Regions from separate parts of the Homo sapiens genome. Here all the other regions are linked to region 1. Evidence: fine-mapped expression QTL. A gene starts in region 1. Each other region holds a variant in brackets. All regions are shown on one strand. Distances are from middle to middle.

What was found. PIP is the estimated chance that this variant, and not a neighbour inherited with it, causes the effect.
Region 2: its variant is the best candidate, but not a certain one, in a credible set for the expression of PCCB in monocytes after LPS (Fairfax 2014, PIP 0.69).
Region 3: its variant is the best candidate, but not a certain one, in a credible set for the expression of PCCB in whole blood (INTERVAL, PIP 0.73).
Region 4: its variant is the best candidate, but not a certain one, in a credible set for the expression of PCCB in whole blood (INTERVAL, PIP 0.86).
Region 5: its variant is the best candidate, but not a certain one, in a credible set for the expression of PCCB in whole blood (INTERVAL, PIP 0.78).

The regions. Positions count from the first base shown.
Region 1 is chr3:136,246,864-136,253,324 of GRCh38, reverse strand. It overlaps PCCB (propionyl-CoA carboxylase subunit beta), which reads right to left and starts at 2,985. Exons shown (of 15, transcript NM_000532.5): 1 at 2,767-2,985. The coding sequence starts at 2,949. RefSeq lists enhancers at 2,511-2,560, 3,191-3,250, 2,480-3,346.
Region 2 is chr3:136,133,345-136,139,805 of GRCh38, reverse strand. The region is part of intron 13 of PPP2R3A (protein phosphatase 2 regulatory subunit B''alpha); the gene reads right to left. Among named protein-coding and RNA genes, the nearest start is that of MSL2, 60 kb to the left of the region's middle. The variant ATATATATAATTTTTTTTTT/T (reference allele first, on the strand shown) is at 3,723.
Region 3 is chr3:136,559,522-136,564,521 of GRCh38, reverse strand. The region is part of intron 5 of STAG1 (STAG1 cohesin complex component); the gene reads left to right. Among named protein-coding and RNA genes, the nearest start is that of STAG1, 190 kb to the left of the region's middle. The variant AG/G (reference allele first, on the strand shown) is at 2,255.
Region 4 is chr3:136,271,101-136,277,561 of GRCh38, reverse strand. All of the region lies in intron 5 of PCCB (propionyl-CoA carboxylase subunit beta), which reads right to left. Among named protein-coding and RNA genes, the nearest start is that of PCCB, 24 kb to the right of the region's middle. The variant T/G (reference allele first, on the strand shown) is at 2,805.
Region 5 is chr3:136,431,807-136,436,806 of GRCh38, reverse strand. STAG1 (STAG1 cohesin complex component) reads left to right here. Exons shown (of 34, transcript NM_005862.3): 16 at 3,148-3,251. Among named protein-coding and RNA genes, the nearest start is that of PCCB, 180 kb to the right of the region's middle. The variant A/G (reference allele first, on the strand shown) is at 2,181.

The sequences.
Region 1 (6,461 bases):
GAGGTCAGGAGATCGAGACCATCCTGGCTAACATGGTGAAACCCCGTCTATACTAAAACTCCAAAATTATAGCCAGGTGTGGTGGTGGGCACCCGTAGTCCCAGCTACTCAGGAGGCTGAGGCAGGAGAACGGCATGAACCCGGGAGGCGGAGCTTGCAGTGAGCCAAGACCGCGCCACTGCACTCCAGCCTGGGTGACAGAGCAAGACTCTATCTTAAAAAAAAAAAAAAAAAAAAAAAAACCTCCATTGCTTGGACTCCCAAGCTCTCAACCCGAGGCAAATACCCTAGCCTACTGTCCTATCCCCCCCTCCCCGAAAAAAACAAAAACAAACAAAAAATACCTCAAATTGGCTATTATTTTCCCCTTAGGAAAGTAGCCAAAGCTGGTGAGGTTGCATTTAAAAAAAAAAAAACAAAACAAAAAACAGGCAATCCTATACACTGTCATGTAAAGTAGAGTAAGTTTTCAGGAAACCAATTTGGCAACATATATACAGATTTTTAAAATATATTTATACTGACCAGGCACTGCGGCTCACACCTGTAATCCCAGCACTTTGGAAGGCCAAGGTGGGAGGACTGCTTGAGCCCAGGAGTTGAGACCAGCCTGGGCAACAAAGCGAGACCCTGTCTCTACCAAAAAAAAAAAAAAAAAAAAATTAGCTGGGTAGGAGGCTGAAGTGGAAGGATCACTGGAGCCCAGAAGGTCAAGGATGCAGTGAGCCATGATTACACCACTGCCCTCCAGCCTGGGTGACAGAGTAAGACCCTGTCTCAAGGAAAAAAAAAAAAAAATTCTGTCATCCCAGCACTTTGGGAGGCAGACGCGGGTGGATCACCTGAGGTCAGGAGTTCAAGACCAGCCTGGCCAACATGGTGAAACTCCATCTCTACTAAAAATACAAAAATTAGCCAGATGTGGTGACACATACCTGTAACCCCAGGTACTCTGGAGGCTGAGGCAGGAGAATTGCTTGAAGCTGGGAAGCAGAAGTTGCAGTGAGCTGCTGCACTCTAGCCTGGGCAACAGAGTGAACTCTGTCTCAAAAAAAATAAATAAACTTACACCCTTTGACCCACTAATTCCTCTTCTGGGAAAATCTACGGAAATGGTCAAAAATTGTTTTAAAAGGGGTGCAGGGCCGGGTGCAGTGGCTCACACCCATAATCCCAACACTTTGGGACGCCAAGGTGGGTGAATCACTTGAGGTCAGGCGTACAAGACCGGCCTGGCCAACATGGTGAAACCCTGTCTCTGCTAAAAATACAAAAAAAAAGTTGCCAGGCATGGTCGTGGGCACCTGTAATCCCAGCTACTTGGGAGGCTGAGGCAGGAGAATAGCTTGAACCTGGGAGGCAGAGGTTGCAATGAGCCAAGATCGCACCATGGCACTCCAGCCTGGGCAACAAGAGCAAAACTCCGTATCAAAACATAAAAATAAAAAGGGGTGCAGGAGGGGGTTCATATTAAATCAGCCTCCTAAGTTAACTTTGGCAAAAGAAAAACAGCTTCTGGAGGCTTCATCTAAACCTAGTAGGATCTACCTGGGAAAGGGCTAGGCGATGTTCCAGGGAAGAATTGAGCAATAGGCCCCAACAGAAAGAGTGTACAGGAGCACTGACAGGCCTTTCCAGAGGATGATCTAACATCTCCCTCAGCCCTAACAGAGTAGGTTAGAAGTAGCCCCAGGGGAGAGAAAGCACTCCTAGCACCACAAACCATCACTAAATTTACATTTCACTCTCAAGTGTCAAAAGGAACTGTTACCTTTGGACCCTTGTCAAATGCGAATTTATGACATCTGAATCAATATTAGACAAATATAGAGCTGTTCAAATCTCCTCACTTTAAGACCCCATCCCTCCCCCAGTGCCTCCCTCATGGTTGTGAGTTGTGCCTGAATACTCTTCATCTGTAAGAGTTTCACTTCTGCACCTTCCCGTTGGTTAATTCGTTCAGCACAACGGTCCAGACTCACCCACCAGTCACGGACACACTGGGCAAGCCTGGTTTCAAGTCAGGGATCACCTCTCCAAAATGGGCCGCCCAGCTTATCTCTGAAGGCCAGCTGGATTCTCGCCTCAAAACCCAGGCGGTGGGTGGCAGTGTTTCAACTGCTCAGTCCAGCCAAACATCGAGAGTAGCCTGCGCACTCCCAGAAAGGCCACCTGCTTCCGACACGTGCCTTTGCTACCCATCAAGGCGAGGCATGCTAAGGCCCTAAAGAGCTCGACCAGGCATTCTGCGGGCAGAAGTTCCACAAGTTCCTGCACGCGCACATCCCCCATTTCATGTTAGTGGAGTATGCCCAAGTTCAGTTTTCCTGCTTCCACAAAGGAGAAAGAACCTACCATCACTCTTTCATGGGGCACGAGAATAAGCACATGGTTTTTACTGAGCGCCTATCATTTTGCTATCTATGGTCTAACGATACACTTGTGAAGGAAGAATTATTATTAAAATGACCCACAGAGATTTAATAAGTTGCCCAAAAGCTTATGTTAAGTGTTGAGCTGGCTAGAGACGAGCCAGATCCGTCTAAATCCCAAGGGTTAAACAGTATGAAAAAGCACACAGGTGCTTCTGCTGGTTATACCCGCCTCCACGAGAAACGCTACAGGTTTTCAAGGTGAACACCCTTGCTCCGGCCCCTCCAGGCACCGTGCGGATTGGCAGGGAGGCCTCGGACGCCGCAAGCCGGGCACGCAGTGATAGGTCGCGGACGCCAGGGGCGGGACTCACTTAGGCCCCTCAGGACTCACTCGCTTGTGCTGCGCGTCAATACGGCGTTGGCCCCCTCCCAGCAGCGCGGTCCGGCGCTTGTTTTCGATGCGTTCGTTAACAGAGGTGGCCTGGCTGCAAAGGCTGCGGACCGCGGCGCGGAGACCGCTCGCCAGAACGCTGAGCCTTGCCCCGACCGCCGCCACCCGTAATGCCGCCGCCATTTTTGCTGTGCCGGCGCGTCCCCTACCGGCGCACCTGAGTACGCATGTGCTAAAGCGTGGGTACGGCGCTTGCGCAGCATCGGCTGGCTGTAGGGAGCCGCGGGGGCTGGACTACAGAACCTGCTTGGGAGTAAGGCGTGAGAGTTCGAGACCCGGTGCTGCCCGAGGAGGGTCGCGCAGAGAAAAAGTACAGGGCCTGCCTGGCTGCACAAAAAAGGGACATAGTCCTTGCTCTTCTCTGACCACCTAGACCCTTAACTTTGTCGTCCCACTTCCTACAGAAAATGATTATAAGATTTAACCAACATTTATTAAGCATTGTGCCAGGTGTTGCTTTTTGCACTTACCATGCACTAGCTTACTATCTGGATTTCACAGATGAGGTAAATCAAGCACAGAGAGATGAGTGATTTGATCAAGAGGCAAGACTGAGGCCGAGGTAGGTGAGCCCAGGAGCCCAAGACCAGCCTGAGCAATATAGTAAGACCCCACCTCTACAAAAAAATTAAAAATTAGCTGGGCATGGCGGCTTGCACCTGTGACCCCAGCTACTCGGGAGGCTAAGGCGGCAGGATGGCTTGGCCCAGGAAGTCGAGGCTGCAGTGAGCCGTGATTGCATCACTGCACTCCAGCCTGGGCAAAACCCTGTCTCAAAAAAAAAAAAAAAAAAAAGCCAAGACTGACAATGTGGTTGGCCAGGATTCAAACTCAGAGACCTATCATTAATATGTGCCAGATAATGAGCACAGGACCCTTAACCTCTAATCAGTAGTTCTCAAAGTATGGATCCCATTAAAGAAAAAACTATTCATGACACTTAATTATTCATGTTTAAGAATGGTAAGGCAAACTTTATTCAGGCCCAATCTGACAGAGGTAGGGATAGAGTTTTGCCATAAGTCAGAGCGATTGGGCTGAATATAGCAAAGTGGTAATTTATAGCTAAGGGGCAGTGTGTGGAAGTCAGTGGATGGAAAATTACTAAGAGGAAACATTGGCGGGGAATCTGGCTAAATTGACCTAACAGGATTCCTGCCCAAGGCAGGTCAGGGTAACTGAACATCACCTGGGGGATGGTGGCGGTATGGGTCAAAACCAGATATGGAGAGTAATCAGATATCAAGAATGGAGGATTCTGGCTAAACTGACTTGGCAAGTTTCTTGCTAAAATGGAATTCCACAAGGAATGACATGGGAGCCCACACTCAGGCCTAGTCAAAGAGAGAGCTCAGAAGAGCCTGACCAATGTTTGATCAAGGAGGGAATCTTGTCAATCCAGCAACTTCAGTATCACCTGGGAGTGAGTTGGAAATGCAAGCTCGAATTCTCAGAACTTACTCCAGACCTTTAAATCAGAAACTCTGGGGCTGGGGCCAGCCATCTGTTTTAGCAGATGACCTTTAGGTGATTCTGATCTGCTTGCTAAAGTTTAAGAACCACTGCTCTAGGAATTTGGAATTGTACTGTTGAGAGCTTGACCATCTGTTTCTCCCACTAACAGGCAGGTCTTCAAGACAAAGAACATGGTTTATATTTCTCATTTTTAGCCACAGAAAACTGCTAAAGTTGATCATGAGCCCTTCCCAGATCCAGCTCATAGCCAGGGCCTTCATAAAGTACAAATTCTGACCTATGACCTTAATGTTAATGCAATTCAACTCAGAAAACATTTTTGAGCACCTACCATGTGCCAAGAACTAAACATCAGTACTGATTGCATTTCCTGGAGTAGTAACAGTTCATCTAGATAGAGAGGGCAGCTTAGAGGCCAAAGCCTCTTGGCTAGGCAAAGCCCACCTGTATCTGTATAACTCCGTAATGGGTACTCTTGACCTTGCATTTGGGTCCTTGCTTTAAAGACTTTACCAACCTAGAGAGGCAGATGGACAACCTAGAGAGGCAGATTGCCTTGGGAGCACAAGAGAGAATTTGAGTAAGGCTGAGTGTGTTGAGGAGAGTTTCTCCAAGAAAGCATCCATATGCCAGGGAACAGAAGCAGTGTGAGCAAAGGCCTGGCATGTTCAGATTCACATACACAGACACACACACATACTTTGTTGTGTTCCCAGCTTTTGGGGAAATGGTGGTAAATGAGACTGGAAAGTGAGAATGGCATTAGATTGTGAAGAGTTTTTTCATGTTCAGAAATTGGGACTTGCTTTTGGCCTGGGGGCAGTTGGACTCCCTTGTCCCACAGTGCCTTGTAGGTTCCTTACATAAAGCACATCTCACACTGTGTTAAGATTGTTTAGCTGTCTTCCTAGACAGACTCTCCAGCCAAAGGTCAGGGACTGCAGCTGATTTGCTCACCACTGTGGTCCCAGCACCTGGAACAAGGCCCAACGCAGAGAAGGCCTTTAGAATGTATTTGTGAAATTGAATCGAGCTAGCAAATAGGCAATTGCATGTGAGTCCAGAGGTTTTCGCCCCCTCCTCTATGTCTTTTCAGGCTCTGAAACCTGCTCAGGTATCATCTCCTCCATGCAGTCTATCCTGATCCTCAGAAGCAAGGAAGTTTTTCTTATTTAACTTTAGATAACCAGTGCTTAGTAGAAAACCCAACACAGGGAGGCTCACTGAACCTAACTGCTTCCTCCAGCTAGTCCTCTCTCCCTCCACTTCTTTCTCACTGTCCTAATGCCCTGCCTATGGGCACTCCATAGTTCTATAGATCTGTAATGTTATTCCTCAGACCTCACATGCAAGCTCCAGCTTGGGGCAGGTGGGTGGGGGTAGGAGGAAGTTGGAGGTAGGAGGCAATTATCCAGTAATTGCCCTTTAATACCACTATGCTCCAGGCTGCTTTCCTGTCCTTAGTCCCCCCGCTGGTGGCTGTGTTTGAGTTTTTTTCTCCATTGTGAGACAGGAGTCACCCTGATCTTTTAGTTTTCTCACTTTCTGAGACAGTAGAGCTGAAAATTTGGAGTCAACACCTGGGTACAAATCTTGCTTCTGCCCTGACTTCCTGGATAACACAGGGTCATTCACCTAAGGATCTCAGTTTCCTCTGTAAAAGTGGAGAGGGGGTGATCTGTGAAACCCTTGTGTTCTGAGTTTGTTACCCATGACATAATAACAAGAGCCCAGTCATTGGTGTTAGACTGTCCTGAGGTTAGTTCCAACTCTGCCAGTTACCTCTGTGTGACTTGGACAACTTGGCCTCAGTTTCCTCTTCTGTAAAATTGGAATAATAATAGTTCTACCTCAGAGTTGTAAGGTTTATTTTTATTTATTTATTTATTTATTTTTGAGACAGGGTCTTGCTCTGTCACTCAGGCTGGAGTGCAGTGGCTCAATCTTGGCTCACTGCAACCTCCCCATCCCAGGTTAAAGCGATTCTCCTGCCTCAGCCTCCCAAGTAGCTGGGATTACAGGCGTGTGCCACCACGCCCGGCTAATTTTTTTGTATTTTTTGGTAGAGATGGAGTTTTACCATGTTGGCCAGGCTTGCCTTGAACTCCTGATCTCAAGTGATCCGCCTGCCTCAGCCTCCCAAAGTGCTGGGATTACAG
Region 2 (6,461 bases), 110 kb after region 1:
TCTTGAACTCCCAACCTCAGGTGATCCGCCTGCCTCGGCCTCCAAAAATGTTGGGATTACAGGCTTGAGCCACCATGCCCAGCTGAGAACAAACTCTTTTTTTTTTTTTTTTTTGAGATGGAGTCTCGCTCTGTCACCAGGCTGGAGGGCAGTGGCGTGATCTCGGCTCACTGCAACCTCTGCCTCCGAGGTTCAAGCGATTCTCCTGCCTCAGCCACGTGAGTAGTTGGGATTACAGGCACATAACACCATGCCCAGCTAACTTTTGTATTTTTAGTAGAGATGGGGTTTCACCATGTTGGCTAGGATGGCCTCGATCTCCTGACCTCATGATCCCCCCCCTCGGCCTCCCAAAGGGCTGGGAGTACAGGTGTGAACCACCGCACCTAGCCTGAGAACAAATTCTCTAACATAGTTTTGTTAGCATGAGGGGATATGGTGGTTCATGTAATTTGGCCAGCAACACCACTGCCTTTAGAAACTTACTTCCCTAAGTAAGTCTTCCCTTTCAGATGAGCAGTTTCTGGGCAAAAGCATTAAGGCGGGCTCTGCAGATTCCTGGGATGGAAATATAAAAGTTGGAATGAGCAGAGATAATGACTGGGACATAAATTGTTTGACAAAGGATTGTATGCAGTTTCAGGGTGTTGTCTGGGAGTTATGTTTTGATTCCAGTTTCCAGGATTCTGACTATTTACAGGGACAAAGGAATAGAATATTTGATTCAGGGATTATCTGGGCATATCTAAGACACATGGTACCTATAGGCATAGAATAAAATGTTCAATATTTTGGCCTGGCATGGTGACTCATGCCTGTAATCCCAGCACTTTGGGGGAGGCCAATGTGGGCAGATCACCTGAGGTTGGGAGTTCGAGACCAGCCTGACCAACATGGAGAAACCCTGTCTCTACTAAAAATACAAAATTAGCTGGGCGTGGTGGTGCATGCCTGTAATCCCAGCTACTCGGGAGGCTGAGGCAGGAGAATCGCTTGAACCTGGGAGGTGGAGGTTGCTGTGAGCTGAGATTGTGCCACTGCACTCCAGCCTGGATGACAAGAGCGAAACTGTCTCAAAAAAAAAAAAAAAAAAAAAAAAAAAAAAAAAAATTCAATATTTCTCTAGTTTGGAGTCTATAATGCTTCAGAAATACAAGTGTGTGATTTATCTTTATACTTTTAAGTTAAAAATAGATATCCTAAGCCACTTATATAAAATGGATTAGCTGAAATTTTGGAAGTTGGATATTTGGTTCACTGAATTTCCTTAACCCATCCAGTGACCAGAAAATCTTTAGTTTCAACTCTTGTTGAAGTTTCCTAATATGTACCACTTGCTTTCCTGTCCCAGGAAGTAGATTTCACTTCAGTTTTGATGGTTAAAGGAACTCTTGCAGTTCTTCAGAATCATGAGCTATCAACTGTTAATTCTTACTCATTGTGGATGTAGACAGCATAAAAATGTGGGCTAAATATATTCTAATTATGAACTGGAAGGACGCGGTCTGAATTCATGTTTATTACCAAGCACAGTGCCTGGCATAGAGTAGGTACCAGTAAATATCTGTTGAAATAAATTAAAATTGGGCTTTGATATGGTTCGTTCAATGTGGAAAAAAATAAAACATTAACTTCAGGCCCACGTAGAGGCTCTGTTTATTAAGCATTAAAAAATAATTCTAAACTCATATATCTGTAATATTATAACTCATGTTTTAGAATATTAATTCATGTCATTCCTTCTTTTTCTTTCCCTATACCCTAATATATACACACAAGCCTCCATTCTCCCTGTTTCCCTGTTCCTCTCCTACATTCTCCCACCTCACTGAGGAGAGTTGGGCTTCATACTTCTCACTAGTTACATTCCTGGACGATTGCTCTAATGGGTTTCTGGCTGGCTTTCTTTACCTATAGTGCCTTAGTTTCCAGTGCTGATGGATGTAAATGTAGATCTCTGACAGAGGCCGGGCGCGGTGGCTCACGCCTGTAATCCCAGCACTTTGGGAGGCCCAGGTGGGCGGATCACGAGGTCAGGAGATCGAGATCGTCCTGGCTAACACGGTGAAACCCCGTCTCTACTAAAAATACAAAAAATTAGCCGGGTGTGCTTGCAGGCGCCTGTAGTCCCAGCTACTCGGTAGGCTGAGCCAGGAGAATGGCCTGAACCTGGGAGGCGGAGCTTGCAGTGAGCGGAGATCGCGCTACTGCACTCCAGCCTAGGCGACAGAGCGAGCCTCCATCTCAAAAAAAAAAAAAAAAAAAAAAAAATCTCTGACAGAGTAATTCATATATTTTTAATATAAAGGAAAAAGCTGCCTTTAAAAACATTCAATAGAAAACAGTTCTAATCTGCCCAAATGTCCAATAATAGGGAAATGGATGTGAGTTACTGCTTGAGAACACTGAAGCACTAAAATTCCTGTTTTTGAACACATTAGTAACAAGTGTTAAAAAGAAATATACCAAGTATAAAATAATGGTTATCCCTGGATCATTGAACCAAGAGTGATTTTAATCTCTTTATATTTTCCATTTTTTCAAGTATTAGTCAAATTGGCAGAAAAGCTTGTTTCTGATTATTGAGGGTCTCAGTTTCTTAGGATAGTAACATGGAAGACCCTTTAGCCTTCTTTACATAATTTCTGTGGTGTTTTTAATGTACTCCATTGCATAAACCATAAGAATGTTAATTATAAATATGGTATCATAACCTGTTATCTTCATATAGGTAACACATTTAGTTGACTTGGATTAAGTAACTGGTACCCTGTCTTTCTGGCTTCTCTTACGAGGGTTGAGTTTATATAAATGCTGTTGTATGCTGTGATCACTTTGTGTGCTAGACATGTTAATTTGCAATGTTTACAGCCTCATACTTACGGAAGCTTTGGTCTTGCTTCACCTCACTGAGACCTGCAGTGATTACGAGGTTACTTACTGAAGACATTACATAAGTACCAGTCTTGAAATCAGGAGGTACAGATGCTTAGCACAATGGCTACCTGTGATTGTTGTTAGATGGTAAAGTAGGTGGAGGATTTTAAGTTGTTTTTGGAGGGCCAAATCATCTGGACTACTGTAGATATCCTTGTAGTGAGGGTGGCTGCTGTATTGCTGTGGTCTGTGCCTTTCAGTAAACATTTGCTGAGGACCTCCTACGTAACAGTTTGCCAGGTGCTGGGACTACAAGACTAAGAAAACGTTCTTGGCCCCTGAGGAGCTCACAATCTAATGGTAAAACAAATAGCTCCATTTTTTTTTAGCATTAATATACCAGACACTGTTAGATTCATTATATACATTATCTCTTAATTCTCAGTACAATCCTGCTGTTCATGCAACAGATATTTACTGTGTCAAGCAGTAAAATGTGCCCTAGGAGTGAAGGGAACAAGATAAGGGATAGAATGCTAATGTTACAGCTGAATAAACTCTACTTCAGAGAGGTTAGGTAATGTGATCACAAAAGTGGTAGCAATAAATAGCCATTGTTTATTGATTACACAGACACTATGCCTAAGGGCCTTATATTATATACACTGTCTTATTTAATCCTTAAAACAGCTCAGTGTGCCAAGTCGTACCCTTATTTTTATAGAGGATGCTGAGGCTTGGATGCCTGAGATTACACAGCTTGTGTGATAAAGCAAGGATTTGAAGTTAGGTTCGTCTAACTTCAAATTTCATGCTCTTAACCATGATGTTTTTTATATATATAT[ATATATATAATTTTTTTTTT/T]TTTTTTTTTTTTTTTTTTGAGACGGAGTCTTGCTCTGTTGCCCAGGCTGGAGTGCAATGGCATGATCACAGCTCACTGCAACCTCCACCTCCTTCCTAGGTTCATTCAAATGATCCTCCCGCCCCAGCCTCCCAAGTAGCTGGGATTATAGGCACACATCACCACGCCCAGCTAACTTTTAGTAGAGATGGGGTTTTGCCATGTTGGCCAGGCAGGTCTCGAACTCCTGGCCTCATCTGCCTGCCTCGGCCTCCCAAAGTGTTGAGATTACAGGCGTGAGCCACTGCAGTGGGCCCATGATGTTACATTGTATTTCTCCTATATGGAGTAGTAATAGCTACTATTTATCATGAGCCATGTGCCAGGTGTTTACATATAATATCTTAGATTCTCACAACCACCTCAGGAAGTGGATGCTGATGCCTTCTGAAACTGAGCCTCAGGAGTCAAGTAACCTGCCCAGCTGGTGAGTGGACCAGATCTGTCTGGCTCCTAAGCCTCTGGTCTTTCTGTGGTACTAACATTCCTCCCTTTCTGATACCTGAGTCTGGCAATTTCTGTTTGACAATTAGACTCTCCCTGACATATCTGTGATTCTTTCTTGAGATGAAACCCTAGTTGATTTAGCCTTGGGAATTTAGGTCTGGCCTTGCTTTTGCACGAGTTGGTCAGTTGTTATTCCTGTAAACGGGCTTTTTCCTTTCCTTTCCTTTGTTCACATTCTAGTGCTTGCTCTATAGACTGTGGCTGTTGTAAGCCTCCTTGCCCCTTGGGACCTCATAACCCACATGTGTTCTGTGTAGGCCTTATCTTATCTCCCACAACAGAAGTGGGGTATCCAGCAAGCAGCAAGAGCCTCTCATATACAACGGTTGAATTTCACTCCAGCTGGTCTCTGCGTCTCCTCTTGTGACCCCTCCTCACCTGTGCTTCTGTCTGCAACCCCCTGCCTCCTCTTTCTTCCTTCCACTGGCACGTTCTCTCAGTGCTACCACAACTTGAAAAAAACTTTCGCTTGAGCCAATTATTTATTCTCTTTAGATGCCACTAGTTTCTCTTTTCAGATGAACATGTCTATTTGTTTAGATCTGCTATCTATTTCTTCTTCCTTTAAAGCAGGTTATAAAACAATAGTAATATTTTTTGTAAAATACATGATCTAGTTGCACAGAAATGTATAGAAGGGTATACTCCAAAGTGATAAAACAGCCTGTCTTTGGGTGGTGAATTTTAGGTGTAGATTTTTGTTTATATTCTAACTCTTCTGCAATGAACATGTATTACCTATATAAACAGATAAAGGAGAAAAATAATTTTTTCCCATTTGTTAAAGTAATACAGTACACGCTCATTACATGAACCTTTATAAATTATAGAACAGTATAAAAAACCAAATTACTTGCAATTCCACAGCCCAGAGTTAATGACTGTTAATATTTTGGGGTGTTATCTTTTAGCTTGTGTATATACATACACACATTTTAAGTACTGAGATTATATCACAATTTTGTAATCTGGATTTTTCTATGAAATTAAAAATTTTCAAGTACATTTCAATAGCTGCATGTTATGACACAGATACCATGACTTATTTAACCATTCTATATTGAACATTTGTGTTGCTTTGAATTTATTTTAGAATTACCTGTGACCAGTGCCAATTGTTTAGATTACACAATTCTATCCAAATTTCTGATTATTTACAATAGATACTCAGAATTACTATCAGGGAGTCAAAGGGCATAAATTCAAGTTGTTGCTACATATTGTCAAATTACTTTCCAGGGACACTGGGGCAATATGCTTTTACCAGCAATGTTTGAAAGTGCGTGTCTTCCTGCAGTAAGCCTAGAGTGAGGTGTTTCTGCAATTTGTTTCTTCTATGAGACAGCAGTGAAGACACTATATTTTAACTGCATCTGTCTGTCTTCCCATCCTGTCTTGCATTTGCCAGTATCCAATAATGCTTAATATACAGTAGTAATGCAAACATTTATTGAATATTATCCTTAAAACTTATGTTTTAAAAATTGCTGCCAATTTAATAAGCTGAAGTTTTTTGGCTCTTGCTTTTTTAAAAACAGCTTTATTTAGGTTAATTTACATACCATAGATTTTACCAATTTTAAGTGTTCAGTGCATTTTAGTAAATTTCTTTTTTTTTTTTTTTTTTGAGATGGAGTTTCACTCTTGTTCCCCAGGCTGGAGTGCAATGGCACAATCTCAGCTCACCATCATATGGTGGAATGTTATAAAAAATACATATATTTAAAAATATATATATATACATATTTATTTTTGTCCTTGCTTGAAAGTCTCTCATGAAAAGATGTATTTTGCTTTATCAGTTCACCAGTTTGATGGACATGTGGATTATTTCCAGTTTTGAGCTACTAGGAATAATGCTGTTATGAACACTGGGTGAGCTTTTCTCTTAGGTAGATTTCTAGGAGTGAGATTATTGATTCATAAGCCAAATGTATGTTTAACTTTTTAAGAAACTGCCAAACTTTTCTAAAGAAGCTGTATAGTTTTACATCCTTACCAGCCCAATGTATGAGAGTTTTGGTTTCTCCACATTACTGCCAACTGGTGATTTTAGTTGTTCAAGTGGCTGTGTAGTATATCTCACTGAGGTTTTAATTTGCAATTTCCTAATGTCTAATAATACAGAACATCTTTTCATACACTTATTTACTGTTTGTACCTCCTTTTTAGT
Region 3 (5,000 bases), 310 kb before region 1:
TAGAACATATGAAAAGAAAACATTTTTTACTTATTACAAAAGGGATTTACTAATTAAAACTATACTTAGTTACCATTTCTTTTTACCTATCAGATTGGCACAAGTTTAAAATCATAACAACATTCTGTTGTTCAGGCTGTGGCGGGGGAAAGCAGACACTGTTACATTGTTGGTTAGAATACAAATTGATAAACTCTTTTGTAAAGGTATCCAGGAATATCTACCAAATCTATATTTATGTCTTATCTGTTGACTCAACCATCCTACTTCTGGGATTTTACCTTGAATATATACCTTCAGCAGTAAGAAAATAGGTACACAAAATTAATGCAACATTATTTGTTACTGGAAAATATTGGAAACAATCCAAATGTTCATATATAAGACAGTGATTGAATGAACTATAGGATAGCCACATGTTGGAGTTTTGTGCTACTGTAAAAAAGAATGAGGAAGATGTCTGTGAATGGAAGTAGGGATTTTCCCTGTATTTTTTTTTTCGAGACAGTCTTATTCTGTCACCCAGGCTGGAGTGCGGTGGTGCGATCTCGGCTCACTGCAACCTCCGCCGCCTGGGTTCAAGCAGTTCTCCTGCCTCAGCCTCCCGAGTAGCTGGGATTACAGACACGCACCACCATGCCCAGCTAAAGTTTTTTTGTATTTTTAGTAGAGATGGGGTTTCACCGTGTTGATCAGGCTGGTCTTGAACTCCTGACCTCATGATCCACCCGCCTTGGCCTCCTAAAGTGCTGGGATTACAGGCATGAGCCACCGTGCCCGGCCTTTCTCTGGATATGTTTTTAGGGCAAAATACAAATTGCAGAATAATATCTACAGTATGCAACTTTGTTGTTGTTGTTTTTTTTTTTTTTTTGTAAGAAAGAAGGGAATATAAGGGTTCATTTCACCAAAAAGAAATACAGGAAAGAAAAACCTGACGGTAACGAGATTGGTTACCTAAAGAGCGAGAGAGAGAGAGAGAGAGTTTGTGCGTGCGTGCGTGTGTGTGTGTCGGAAAGTTTAGAGGGAATTGAGGTGAGGGAATGATACTGAATTTGAATATAGTTTTATAGTTTTTGAATAGTCCTGACTTTTGGAGCTATCTTAATATTTCAAATCCCCAAGAAAACAAAATCAACAAAGATGGAGGGAGAATATCCTAAAAATGAATACAAACAGAACAAATAACCTTTACACCATAATAACAACCACACTGAAAGGTGTAAAATTACTAACCAACGTAACTTGGGAACTCAGTAAGTGGGCTGTGAAACTAGTGGGGTCGGGGAGAAGTTTGATGAAGAGCACAATATTTACCCAGTCTCAAAATGTCTCCTTTCAAGATATCTACTATTTACAGGGTAAAATAGAAACTTTGCAATGTAGAAACTTGATAGATAGCACCTTAACAAATGATAAAAGCAAACATTGCAAGTTACGGAGCTAATTGCTATCATGTGCTTTCTGATATGCCCTTAGAAGAACTCAACATCACTTCTGTGATATTCTTGCCAGAAGTGCATAGTCTGAATCTACTCATGAAGAAACATAAGACAAGCTTGAATTGAGTTATATTCTTCAAAACAACTATCCTGTACTCTGCAAAAAAGTCAGTGTCATGAAATAGTCAGAAATGCTGGGCGTCGTGACTCACACCTGTAATCCCAGCACTTTGGGAGGCTGAGGCGGGCAGATCACCTGAGGTCAGGAGTTCAAGACCAGCCTGGCCAGTGTAGTGAAACCCCATCTCTACTAAGAATACAAAAATTAGCTGGGCATGGTGATAGGCGCCTGCAATCCCAGCTACTTGGGAGGCTGAGGCAGGAGAATCACTTGAACCCAGGAGACAGAGGTTGCAATGAGCCAAGATCACACCATTGCACTCCTGCCTGGGCAACAGGAGCAAAACTCTGTCTCAAAAAAAGAAAAAAAGAAATGACTCAAACTGTTCTAGCTTAAAGTAGAGTAAAGAAACATGACAGGTGGCTGCAGTGCATGATCTTAGAATTTCTTTGGGCAGATTTCCTGAGGTCAGGAGTTCAAGACCAGCCTGGTCAATGTGGTGAAACCCCGTCTCTACTAAAAATACAAAAATTAGCCGGGCGTGGTGGTGGGTGCCCGTAATCCCAGCTGCTTGGGAGGCTGAGGCAGGAGAATCGCGTGAGCCCAGGAGGCGGAGGTTGCAGTGAGCTGAGATTACACCATTGCACTCCAGGCTGGGCAACAGGAGCGAAACTCTGTCTAAAAAAAAAAA[AG/G]AAAAAGAAATGACTCAGAAACTGTTTAAAGTAGACTGAAGAAATGTGACAGGTGGCTGCAGTGCATGATCTTAGAATTTCTTTTGGCATAAAGGACGTTATTGAGACACGTGAAATCTTAATTAGTTCTGTGGATTAGAACATACATGTAGTATCAATTGTTATATCTTATGCTTTGGAACATTGTACTATACTGTGGTTGTATAATAGGTTTATTTGGGGGAAATACACACTGAAATATTAAAGAGTAAAGGAATATCATGTCTGTAGCTAAACACTTATTCAGAACAAATGCATCTGTATATGAAGAGTGAAAGAAGGATAAAACGGATGTAAATGTTTACATCTGAAGAATTTGGGTGGAAGGTATTCAGAAGTTCTTTGTACTTTGCTGTCTTTTCTGTAAATCTAAAATTATGTCAAAGTACAAAAATGAAAAAAAAAAAAAATGTTTTAACCCCAAAGCCAGCGTCATGCTCAAGGGAAATCAGTAGTCATTGTCACTGTCAAGACAAGGATACCCAGCCTCACAATTCTTATTTAACATTATATTGGATATGCAAGCCAACACATTTGGACAATAAAAAGTAATTATGATCACTGTTTTTAAAATGATGTTATTCAAAATAATATAGCATGTTTAGAAAACTCAGGAGAATCAGTTTGCAAAACTATTATAAGCAATAAAATAATTCCATAATATATTGAGATACAGAATTTATAGAGAAAAATTACTATCCTACAGCCAGTTAGAAGATTTAAAGACCTCCTTTTCAAGACAAAAGTGAGGGGGAAAATTCTTTCAGATTTACATTTCACTGTGATGGTGTAAACCAGGATAAATTTCCAGTGCATCAAGAGTTTAAGGGCAAAAACAAACAACAAATACAAAGAAAAATAGTAAAAGCACTCAATGAAAACTAAGAATTCCTTTATAACCACGGAGTGGGGAAGACCTTTTTATTAACTGACTCACAATTAACTGACTCAAAATCTATAAGTTAGCAAAGACTCATAAATGACATAAGAAAACAAAAAATTTGTAAGATGGAGACACATTATAGGGAAAGTCAAACGACAAGGGACAAGTGGGGGAAATTTTTTTGTATTACAAAGGCTGCTATCTCTAATATATGTTGAGATAAGATTTGCATTTTATAAGGACTCCTTGTCTTGCACATTAATATCCAAAATCTAGATTGGCATTTTACTGTGTGAGCCCATTTTCCCCTAAAGCTGCGTAAGAACCAAGGACCAAAAGAGTGTTTTAAAAATTGACCTGAAGTGGGAAGAGAGCAAGGAAAGGCAGGAAAAAAAAAAATCACAATTCGCCCCGTCCCCACCCAAGTTCCCGGCTAGAAGTGGTATCACCAACAATGACAGAACAAAGTGAAACATCTTCTCATGAGTGAATAGTATGAACAACTCCTCCTTCATTGGCTCCAGTATCCCTATTATCACTATTTTCTCATCTTGGCTCTTGAGCCAAGCCCTAAGGTGCAGTATTGGTTTTCTAATTTAGCTATCTCAAGTTGCATTAGCACCCATAGTTGTTTTTCTAACTCTGCTGAAACGTCTGTAGTCTCTTCATTTGAACCAGCTGGAGTGAATTCTGTTTACCATTGGAAACCTCAGAATTGGCTAACTCAATATGTAGTAGTAATAGATATATTCAGTATCAATGAAGTGGGAAAAATGCAAAGGTAAAGTTGATTTAAACACTGTTGACTTAGAGTTGCATTCTAAAGCTATGTAAATTCATAAGTGTTTATTGGAATAAGTTATGAGAGAACTAAGAACACAGAATTATAGCATGTATTCAGGGAATTATGCATAGCAAAATGAAGATATGTTCTCCATATATTCAAAGTATACCTTGTTGATACACGTACATATTTACTTTGGTATGTACTTAAACATAACTAATTTCAGAAATATATGGTTTTTGATAAGTAGTTTTCATTGACAGATGTGCCTATTTTTAATAAGGGTTGTTGATCAAACTTGAAAGTTGGTGGTTAAAAGCAACCTTCTTTCTTAGTTGAATATAACAAGGAATGTTTCTATTTTGCTCTGTTTGTGCCTAACAGAGAAGTTCCGGATGCCTCAGGGCTTTCTAGGAGTGCAGAATTGCCAGAGAATTAATCACCTAGGAGCACTTAATCTAAGAGTTCCTGAACTTAACCCAGTTCGCTGGCTAATTAGCATCTCAGTGATTTTTTCATGGCACCTGTAAGCCAAAAGAAATACCTAACATTCTTTTCAGGAAGTTGTTATGTCCAAACTATTTATTTAGGTCCTCACAACTTAGTAGCCATTTAGAAAATGACATACATAATTGAAAAAAATTGTATTCATGTCTCAAATAACTGCAGTTACTTACTAATGTGTGTACAGATGTGTTGGGCATTGTATAGCTTCTCACATTTTGAAATTATCTTCATTTCCTGTTTTATATTGGTTTTTTGATAGCCCTTGTTGAAACTCAGCCTCTCAAAGATAGGGCATTATCAACAGGAATAAAGGACCAGATGTTGAGATTGCAAGTTGCCTCATGCTAATAGTTCCTGTGGTACTTGACAAATATCAAATATTGTATTGTTTTCCTTTGAATATTTAAAATATCCACATTACCCATATCATTTTGTGTGAGTCCCTCAGGACATCTCAGTGCACAGTTTGGGCACCATGGCTTTAACAAGTGACTGACCGGGAGTTAGTGTATAAATACCCCAATTCCTTTGC
Region 4 (6,461 bases), 24 kb before region 1:
TGTAGACCCACCTGACCCAGCCCCCACCTGGCTGTACCCCTCCACCCACCCTGGTTACTTAATACAAAGGACAGAAACTTTTGGCAGCTTTATGGACCCCGTTGTCACCTGAGAAACCAGAATACCTCCTGGGCAACACAGGACAAGCTCGAATCCCACTGCTACTACTGCAGCTGGTGCCCTTTTGTAAACGCTACCTCCAGGCTGGATGCCAACCAACACAGTCCACTACAGCATCTCTAGGTAGAATAACACTGTGAACAGAAAGGAGAAAACCAGTGCATGACCTAAGCTATCATCATTGCCTGCAAAACCCTGGCTAACCAGGAGGTCCTGCATCTGTCCACGTGACCAGTTCACTACTATTATAACCAGCATTCGAGAAAGCCAGCACACTAAGGCTTTCTGTAACCAAGGAACCTCAAAGAGTCTACCTCACTCACCTGACACTCCCATCAGCACTAGTGTTGGTATATCCCTTGCTGGGAGACTTGAGGACAGGTCCCATTACCGGATCCCTTGCAGACATTCCCCAGCACCAGCCTGGAGTTGGGCAGCCCCACTGGGTGGCTAGACCCAGAAGAATAGCAATCAACTTATCCTGGCTCTCAGGAATTCTTACTCCTAAGGGAAGGAGGAGACCACCACACCAAGGGAATACCCCATGGGACAAAAGAATTCAGATGGCAGGCCTTGAGTTCCAGATCTTTCCACTGATGGGAAGTTCCTTTCAGCAGAGACACAATTGCAGTGCTGGGCTCAGAAGGGAAAGTCTGCAGCTCTACCCCAACAATCAGGCAGCTTTGCTGCTCATGAAGGGTCCTGGAGAAGGTATCTTCTCTCCCACCTTGTCCACCACTACACAGACACAGTTGGGGCTTCTCCACAGGAGCTTGGCAAAGGTGAACCTATAGACAGCCTTCCTGGAACACTACAGAGTGACTGCATCTCCACAGGAGGAATCCCCCAACCCCCACCCCCGCCCTGGCCCAAGTTCAGGCTTGCAAGAGAGGCAGAGTCACAAATTCCTCTCTGTGTGGAACAACAACAGTCCTACAGATGAAAAGAGATGCCTGTCTGATCCGAATAGCTGGAACACTAGGGCAGGAGCGAGTCTGGGAGGTGAATAGCTTTCCTACTGGCCTGGCAAAGGAGCTGAGGTGGCTCCCACCCTTCCCCTTGATAAGACCTCAGTGCATCTAATTGAGAGTTCCCCCAGCCACTTTCATCAAGGGTGGAACCTCTCTGCCTTACTGAGTATTGCATTTACCCATTTGCTTTAGCCACAACTGGTTCCTACCCAGGGACAGCTCCCCTACTGGCCTGAAGCCTTAACCATCAACTTAGTAAATAAAATACAGGGGAAAAATTAAATAAATAAAAAAGCACACACCACAGGGGAATGAGATGAGCTTCAAGAGACCTTTCCATCTCAACCCCATAGGAGACAGTGAACTTGCCCACACATCAAGTACATATCTATTAAATACAGGCCAGGGGCAGTGGCTCACGCCTGTAATCCCAACACTTTGGGAGGCCAAGGCAGGTGGATCACCTGAGGTCAGGAGTTTGTGACCAGCCTGGCCAACATCCTGAAACCCCGTCTCTACTAAAAATACAAAAATTAGCCAGGCGTAGTGGTGCACACCTGTAGTCCCAGCTACTCGGGAAGCTGAGGCAGGAGAATCACTTGAACCCGGGAAGTGGAGGTTGCAGTGAGCCAAGATTGTGCCACTGCACTCCAGCCTGAGTGACAGAGCGAGACGCCATCTCAACAAAAATAAATAAATAAATAAATAAATACAACCAGCATCTAAAGAAGCCATCATACAAAGACTCTCTATAGCCAAGGAACTCATACAGTCTTCCCCCTAAAAGCATTAAGAATCACATTAGGCTATAATAAACTATAAACACTAAAGTCACATCCTTAGTGAAGAGGAAAAAGAAACTTAAAAAAACCACAGCCAAATCAAAAATAAATTCAAGAACAATTAGAAGAAATACTCTACACAAACGAGAAAGAACCAGAAAAGTAATTTTGGTATAAGACAAAACAGGGTTCTATCATACCCCCGAAAGATCACACTAGCTCCCCAGCAATGGATCCAAACTAAAACGAAATATTTGAAATAATCAGATAAATAATTCAGTAGGTTGATTATTAAGCTACTCAAGGAGACACCATAGAAAGGTGAAAACCAACATAAAAAAAAAACTTAAAAAACAATTCAGAATATGAAGGAAAAATTTTCTACATAGATATCATAAAGAAAAAACAATCAGAATTTCCGGAAATGAAACACACTTAGGGAAATACAAAATGCAATGGAAAGTTTCAACAATAGACCAGAACAAGTCAAAGAATGAATTTCAGAGCTCCAAGACAAGGCTTTCAAATTAACCCAATCAGACAAAAATAAAGAAAAAAGAATCAAAAGAAATAAATAGGCTGGGGTCAGTGTCTCATGCCTATAATCCTAGCACTTTGGGAGGGCAAGGCAGGTGGACTGCTTGAGCCCAGACTTTGAGACCAGCCTGAGCAACATAGCAAATTTCCATCTCTACAAAAAAAACATAAAAATTAGCCGGGAGTGGTGGCATGTGCCTGTAGTCCCAGATACTCAGGAGGCAGAGGTGTGAGGATTGCCTGAGCCCAGGAGACAAAGGTCACAACACTGTACTACAGCCTGGGCAACAGAGTAAGACCCTATCTCAAGAAAGAAAAAAAAAAAAAGAAAGAAGAAATGAACAAAGCTTCCAAGAAATATGGGATTATGTAAAACAACCAAACCTAAAAATAC[T/G]TGGTGGTCCTGAGGGAGAAGAGAAGGCTAAAAGTTTAGAAAACTTATTTGAGAGAATCATTGAGGAAAACTTCCCTGGCCTTGCCTGAGATTTCAATATCCAAATGCAAGAAGCTCAAAGAACTCCTGGGAAATTCATTGCAAAAAGATTATCACCAAGGCACATAGTCATCGGGCTATCTAAAGTCAACATGAAGGAAAGAATCCTAAGAGCTATGAGACAAAAGCATCAGGTAACCTATAAAGGAAAACCAATCAGACTAACAGCAGATTTCTCAGCAGAAACCTTACAAGCTAGAAGGGATTGGGGTTCTATCTTTAGCCTCCTTAAACAGAATAACTGCCACCCAAGAATTTTGCATCCAGCAAAACTAAGTTTCCTAAATGAAGGAGAGATAAAGCCATTTTCAGATAAACAAATGCCGAGGGAATCTGCCACTACCAAACCAGCATTACTCTTCAGAAGAGTTCTACATCTTGAAACAAAAGCTCAATATGCACCAAAATAAAACCTCTTGAAAGATAAAACCCACAAGGCCTATAAAACAATAACACAATGAAAAAAAAACAAAGTAAGTAACAACTAAAATGATAAACAGATCAGTATCTCACATCTCAATATTAATGTTGAACGTAAATGGCCTAAATGATCCACTTAGATACAGAATGGCAGAATGGATTTTTAAAAAATCACAAACCAAATATCTGCTGTCTTCAAGAGAGTCATCTAACACATAAGGATTCATATAACCTCAAGGTAAAGGGGGGGAAAGAGATATCCCATGCAAATGGGAACCAAAAGCAAGCAGAATGAGCTATTCTTTTTTTTTTTTTTTTTTTTTTTTTGAGACAGAGTCTCCCTCTGTCACCCAGACTGGAGTGCAGTGGTGCAACCTCGGCTCACTGCAAACTCCGCCTCCTGGGTTCACGCCATTCTCCTGCCTCAGCCTCACAAGTAGCTGGGACTACAGGCACCCGCCACCACGCCCGGCTAATTTTTTGTATTTTCAGTAGAGACAGGGTTTCACCGTGTTAGCCAGGATGGTCTCGATCTCCTGACCTCGCGATCCGCCCGTCTTGGCCTCGCAAAGTAGCTATTCTTATATCAGACAAAATAGACCTTTAAAGCAACAACAGTAAAAAAAAAAAAAAAAAAAAAAGAAAAAAGAAAAAAAAAAAGAAAGAAAAAGAAGGTCATTATATAATAAAAGGAACAATCCAACAAAAAGATATTATAATCCTGAATTCATATTCACCTAATACTGGAGCTCCCAGATTTATAAAACAATTACTACTAGACCTAGGAAATGAAATAGCAACAAAGTGAAATGGGGGACCTCGATACTCCACTGACAGCACTAGACTCTTTTTGTTGAGACAGAAACTCAACAAAGAAGCAATGGACTTAAAGTATACCCTAGAACAAATGGACTTAACAGATATTTACAGAACATTCTACCAAACAACTGCAGAATATACATTCTTCTCCTCAACACATGGAACATTCTCCAAGATAGACTGTATGACAGGCCACAAAACAAGTCTCAACAAATTTAAGAAAATTGAAATCATATCAAGTATCTTCTCAGACTACAGTGGAACAAAACTAGAAACAACTCCAAAAGAAATGCTCAAAACTATACAAATACATGGAAATTAAATAATCTGCTCCTGAATAATTTCTGGGTTAACAATAAATCAAGATAAAAATTTAAAAATTTGAAATGAATGATAGTAGTGACACAGTTATAAAAACCTCTGGGGATACAGCAAAAGTAGTGCTAAGAGGAAAGTTCATAGTTTTAAGTACATACATCAAAAAGTCTGAAAGAACACAAACTGACAATCTACTGTCTCACCTCAATGAACCAGAGAAACAGGTACGAACTAAACCCAATGCCAGCAGAAGAAATAACAAAGATCAGAGCAGAACTAAAGGAAATTGAAGCAAAAAATAAAACAAAAACTTGGTTCCTTGAAAAAATAAACAAAATTGGTCGACCATTAGACTAACCAAGAAGAGAATAGATCCAAATAAGCTCAATGAAAAATGAAACTGGAAATATTATAACCAATATCATAGAAATACAAAAGATCACTCAAGACTAACATGAACATCTTTACACACACAAACTGAAAAATCTAGAGGAAATGGATAAACTCGTGGAAACATACAATCCTCTAAATCAGGAAGAAACAGAAACCCTGAACAGACCAAAAACAAGCAGTGAGACTGAATCAGTAATTTTAAACTGCCAACAACAAAAAAGCCCAGGACCAGATGGATCACAGTTGAATTCCACTAGATATTCAAAGAATTGGTACCAATCCTACTGAAACTATTCCAAAAGATTGAGAAAGAGGGAATCCTTCCTAAATCATTCTATGAAGCCAGTATCACCCTAATACCAAAGCCAGGAAATGACATTAAAAAAAGAAAACTACAGACCAGTGTCTCTGATAAACATGGATGCAAAAATCCTCAACAAAATACTAGCTAACCAAATCCCACAGCACATCAAAAAGATAATACAACATGATCAAGTGAGTTTCATCCCAGAGATGCAGGGATGGTTTAACATATGCAAGTCAATAAATGTGATAAATCCCGTAAACAGAATTTAAAACAAAAACCATATGATCATCTCAATTGCATGCAGAAAAAGCATGCAATAAAATCCAGCATCTCTTTATGACAAAAAACTCTCAAACTAGGCATAGGAGGGATATACTTCAAAATAGTAAAAGCAATATATGATAAACCCACAGCCAACATCGTAATGAATGGGGAAAAGTTGAAAGCATTCCCCCTGAAAACTGGAACAAGACAAGGATGCCCACTTTCACCACTTCTATTCAACATAGTACTGGAAGTCCTATCCAGAGCAATTGGGCAAGAGAAAGAAATAAAGGGCATCCAAATTGGAAAAGAGGAAGTCAAACAAGTACTGTTTATCAGTGATATGATCATATATACTTGGAAAACTCTAGCGACTCATCCAAAAGACTCCTAGATCTGATAAAGGAATTCAGTAAAGTCTTAGGTTACAAAATTAATATAGACAAATAAATAGCTCTGCTATACACCAACAATAACCAAAGTGACAATCAAATCAAGAACTCAATTCCTTTTACAACAGCTGCAAAAAATAAAATAAAATACCTAGGAATATACCTAACCAAGGAGGTGAAGATCTCTACAAGTGAAACTACAAAACGCTGCTGAAAGAAACTATACATGACACAAACAAATGAAAACACATCTCATGCTCATGGAGGTAAGAATCAATATTGTGAAAACGATCATATGGCCCAAAGCAATCTACAGATTCAATGCAATTCCCATCAAAACACTACCATTACCATCATCATTTTTCACAGAACTAGAAAATACAATCCTAAAATTTATATGGAACCAAAAAAGAGTCCAGATAGCCAAAGCAATACTAAGCAAAAAGAACAAATCTGAAGGCATCACATTACCAGACTTCCAAGACTTAAATCTAAGACCTGAAACCATAAAAATTCTGCAACATTGGAAAAACTCTTCTGAACACTGGCCCAGGCAAAAAATCCATGACTAAGACCCCAAAAGCTAATGCAACAAAAACAAAAATAAATGGGACCTAATTAAACTAAAAAGCTTCTGCACAGCAA
Region 5 (5,000 bases), 180 kb before region 1:
GAACAAGATGTTGTATCTTTTTTGCCTTTTCTTTGATTTTGCTCCAACTTAGTTTAAAATAATCAATGTAAACTTTTAAACCTTTGTAAATTAATTGAATTCTTAAATTTATACCTAGTTCTGTGTCTATAATACCTACATCTACTGGTCTTCAATATAAATAAGTATACAGAGGGAAGGAGAAAGAAAGAACTAAACTATTCGAATTATCAAAATCTGAGTTTAAGGCTGGGCACAGGGGCTCACACCTGTAATCTAGCACTTTGGGAGGCCGACGTGGGTGGATCACTTGAGCTCAGGAGTTCGAGACCAGCCAGGCCAACATGGTGAAACCCTGTCTCTACTAAAAGTACAAAAATTAGCTGGGCGTGGTGGTACATGCCTGTAATCCCAGCTACTCAGGAGGCTGAGGCAGGAGAATCACTTGAACCTAGGAGGCAGAGGTTGCAGTGAGCCGAGATCACGCCACTGTACTCCAGCCTGGGTGACAGAGTGAGACTCCACTTCCAAAAAAACCAAAAATATCTGAGTTTAAAAATATGTAAGAATGAGGCCAGGCGTGGTGGCTCATGCTTGGAATCTCAGCACTTTGAGAGGCTGAGGCCGGTGGATCACTTGAGGTCAGGAGTTTGAGACCAGCCTGGCCATCATGGTGAAACCCCGACTCTCCTAAAAATACAAAAATTAGCCGGGTGTGGTGGCACACCTGTAATCCCAGCTACTTAGGAGGCTGAAGCAGGAGAATCCTTTGAACCTGGGAGGCGGAGGTTGCAGTGAGCTGAGATCACGCCATTGCCTTCTGGCCTGGGCGATGGAGCAAGACTGTCTCAAAAAAAACAGGCTGGGTGCAGTGGCTCACACCTGTAATCCCCGTGCTTTGGTAGGCCAAGACGGGTGGATCACGAGGTCAGGGGTTCAAGACCAGCATGGCCAAGATGGTGAAACCCCGTCTCTACTAAAACTACAAAAATCAGCCAGGGGCGGTGGCAGCCACCTGTAATCCCAGCTACTAGGGAGGCTGAGGCAGGAGAATCACTGGAACCTGGGCGGCAGAGGTTGCAGTGAGCCAAGATAGCCTCACTGCACTCCAGCCTGGGTGACACGAGTGAAATGCCGTCTCAAAAAAAAAGAAAAAAAGAATTCGGGAAAGTATAGAATCTATGTGAAGGAAACCATAGTTTTAATTAAATGACTTAAGATCTCAAAACTGAAAAGCTATATTGTATTTCTAGCTGAAAATGTCATTTTTTTTAATGGTACTAGTCATAATTCCAGTGGGTTTGAGAGAGTTCTGGGAGATATGGTGAATACGAACTAACTAAGCAAAATGATTTTAAAGTTTATGTAGAATTCTAAGCTTATGCTGAAAAGACAGTATAGCGTAGTGCTTAAGAGAACTGACTCTGGGGTCAAACTACCTGAGTTCATATATTTGAATGCTCTACTGCTAGCTAAGTGCATTTTTCTGTGGCTCATTCTCCCTGTCTGTGAAGTGAGGATATTAGTTCCTATCTCTTAGAAATGTTTTGTGGATAAAACAAGTTATTACATATAAGCCACTTATGATCGTGCTTTAGATATAGAAAATTCTTAATAAATGAATTGCTATTAGCGTTATAGAAATTAAACAAAATTTTAGAAAAAGGGCTAGATAAGGGAAACTTGCTTATATATTCAAGTTGGTTGAATTAAGTTACATATTAAGTTATAACAAATTATGCCATAAGTCTAGTATAATCAAAGCAGTAAAGCATTGTCATAGAAATATACAAATAGATTAGTGAAACTAAAGAATCCAAAAATGCCTGAACCATGTTTAAAAATGACATTTAAATTAAAAAGGGAAATCTGGTTTAACAGTGGTGGAGACAACTGGCTATTTGGTGGGAATAAACAGACCCACCTACTATCATCAGAAATAAATGCCAAATAGGTTAAAAATACAAAAGTGAGCAAGCAAGAGAGACAGAAAAAGTGAAAGGAAGGAAGAGCAAAAGAGCAAGCAAGCACACGAGACAGCAAAAGATGAAATAAATTAGAAGAAAATGAAGAACATATTAGTGTAATCTGCAGGACAGAGAGATCTTTGAAGGCAATACAAGAAACCTGGAAGCCATAAAACAAAAGGAGACAGACGTGGCTTTTTAAAAATTAACAATTTCTGTCTGACAGAAGATACC[A/G]TGAAGAGTCTGATAACAAATGACAAACTGGGAGAAAATACTTGCATCATTCAAAAGATAAAAAGTACTACCCCTACCATACAAGAGTTCTCAGATTGATAAGAAAGGTGAATAGTAGCACAAAAACAGGTGAAGAATAAACATAGACAAATCTTAGGGAAAAATAGAAAATATATTCCACTTAACTAATTAGTAGATAGGAAGGAGCAAAATAATAACCAAATACCCCTTTTCAACCATTGGACTGGCAAAAATTAAAATGGTTTATAACATCTAGTGTTCACAGGGATATAAGGAACCAAACATTCATAACATTGCAGTTGGGGATATAAATTATAATAAATAATCTTATGATTTCTCAATATCAAGGTCTTGCCATTTGAATCCATTATTTCTTCTTTGGAGAATTTATTGTACAGAAATAAATGTATCAGTTACATAAATATATATCTATTAATGATGTTTATTGAAGCATTGTTCAGTGTCAAAAATCAGGAAATTATTTGAATGACCATAAGTAGAAGGCTGACTGAATTATGGTACATACGTTAGATAGTAATTTATTAAGATAATTATTATGTGTGTATTGACTTGAAAAATATTGTCTGTTAAGTTTTTAAAAACATACGGCATAGTCTTTTTCATTAAAAAAGAAAAATTAGGAGTTTTGAAATTATGTAGAAGGAAACACTGTGAAATTTTAGAATTGCCTAACTTAGAAAGGTAGCATTAGAAGAGACCAGAGTTTATCCTCTTATTCTTTACTTTGTATCTCTTTCCTATTTGACTTATGACAGCAAGCACATAATTACTTTAAAAAAAAAAATAGCAAAGTACAGAGCTTAACTTTAGTCTTTAAAATAAGCAGTAATAGAATGTTTTCAGTTTTTTTAATAATGTGTTCATTTTTAATACATGGTTGTTGTAAAACTGTCTACTCATGCTCATGTATTTTGTTTTACCTTAGCAATGTCTGATCGTCAAGAGAGTGCTCTTATAGAGCTAATGGTTTGTACAATTCGTCAAGCTGCTGAGGCACATCCTCCAGTGGGAAGGGGTACCGGCAAGAGAGTAAGTTACATTAGTGAGAAATCTCCTAAAAGGTTTTTAATGGCAATTAACTGTCTTAAATATTTGGAAATTTTACTGATATTTGTATCCCTAAAAACATGGTGTTTTTATAAATGATGGACTATGGTGCTTCATCTTTATATCCTATATGCTATACTCAGGTTCCAAAAATAGATTCTTTCCTTCATGCTCCCATAGCACCTGTACCTGCTTCTGTTATTGTACTTACGTATTTTATATATATATATATTTTAAGGATTTTTACGTCTATTAAAAGTACATAAAGGCTCTGGAAGCAAAATGCCTAGTTTGCAAGTTCTTCTATTTAGCAGCTATATAATCTTTAGATAGATGAATGATTTTTGTATGTCTTAGTTTCCTTATCTGTAATATGGGACTAGTAATACAGGTATTTATATTAAAGATGAGTTCAGATAATCATAGATGGAGAGACTCCTGGCTCTGTTGGTTTGAAGAGGTAGGCAGATCTTTCTGCAAAAAGCAAGTATAAAACTGGAATGTATTGTCAAAAACATTACATCAGGGCTCTGGAAATTCACCAAAGATTAAAAAAAAAACACACATTGGGAAATATTTTTTCCTGAAAAATTGATAGAGCTTCAGGTAAAAGCAGCGGAAGTCTGTGGCCTTCTTGCCAATACACATGTACCCACATGCTTGGTCGATAAGATCTGTAGTTTGTTACCAGAGTGGCACTGCGTGCAAAAACCAGAAGCTTTGTTGTCAGAGAGAATGGATTAAGTGGCTCATGCCTGTAATCCTAGCACTTATGAGGCCTAGGTGGGGGATTACTTGAAGTCAGGAGTTCAAGACCAGCCTGGCCAACATAGTGAAACCCCGTCTCTACTAAAAATACAAAAATGAGCTGGGCAGGGTGGCATGCACCTGTAGTTCCAGCTACTCGAGAGGCTGAAGCAGGAGAATCACTTGAACCCAGAGGCAGAGGTTGCAGGGAGCCCAGATCATGCCACTGCTCTCCAGCCTGGGTGACAGAGCAAGACTCTGTGCCCCCCCCCCCCCAAAAAAAAAGAAAACAAAAATTAAAATCTTTAGTTACTGTATTATTCAAAAATGTCTACTTTCAAGAAAAACTACAGCCATGCAAAGAAACAGTAAAATGTGACCATACTCAGGAAAAAAAGCAGACAATAGAAATGGCTTCTCAGTAGGGCTATATGTTGGATTTAGCAGGCAAAGACTTCAGAGGCCTTTTAATAAGTATATTCAAAGAATTACAGGAAAATATGAAAACAAGAAGTAGAGAATCTCAATAATGAAAACCCAAATGGAATTTCTGGTGAGAAGTACAATGCACAAATTTAAAATTAACTGAGTAAGTTAATTAGCAGATTTAAGATGATGAAAGAGACAATAGAAAAACATGAAGATTAATAGAAATTATCCATTCTGAAGAACAGAGAAGAAAAAAGATTGAAGAAATACTATCAGAGCCTCAGAAATGTGTGGAACCACCATCATGTGCACTGAAATATGTATAATGGGAATCCCAGAAGGAAAGGAGAGAGGAATAGAGGCAGAAAAAATATTTGAAGAAATAATCACTGAAAACCTCCCAAATTTGATGAGAGACAATTTGCAGATTCAAGAAGCTTAACAAAATCCAAATAAAATAAACACAAAAGTTCCACATATAGACACAACATAGTCACATTGTTAAAAGACAAAGACAAAAAATCTTGAAAGCAACAAGAGATCAACAACTAATGT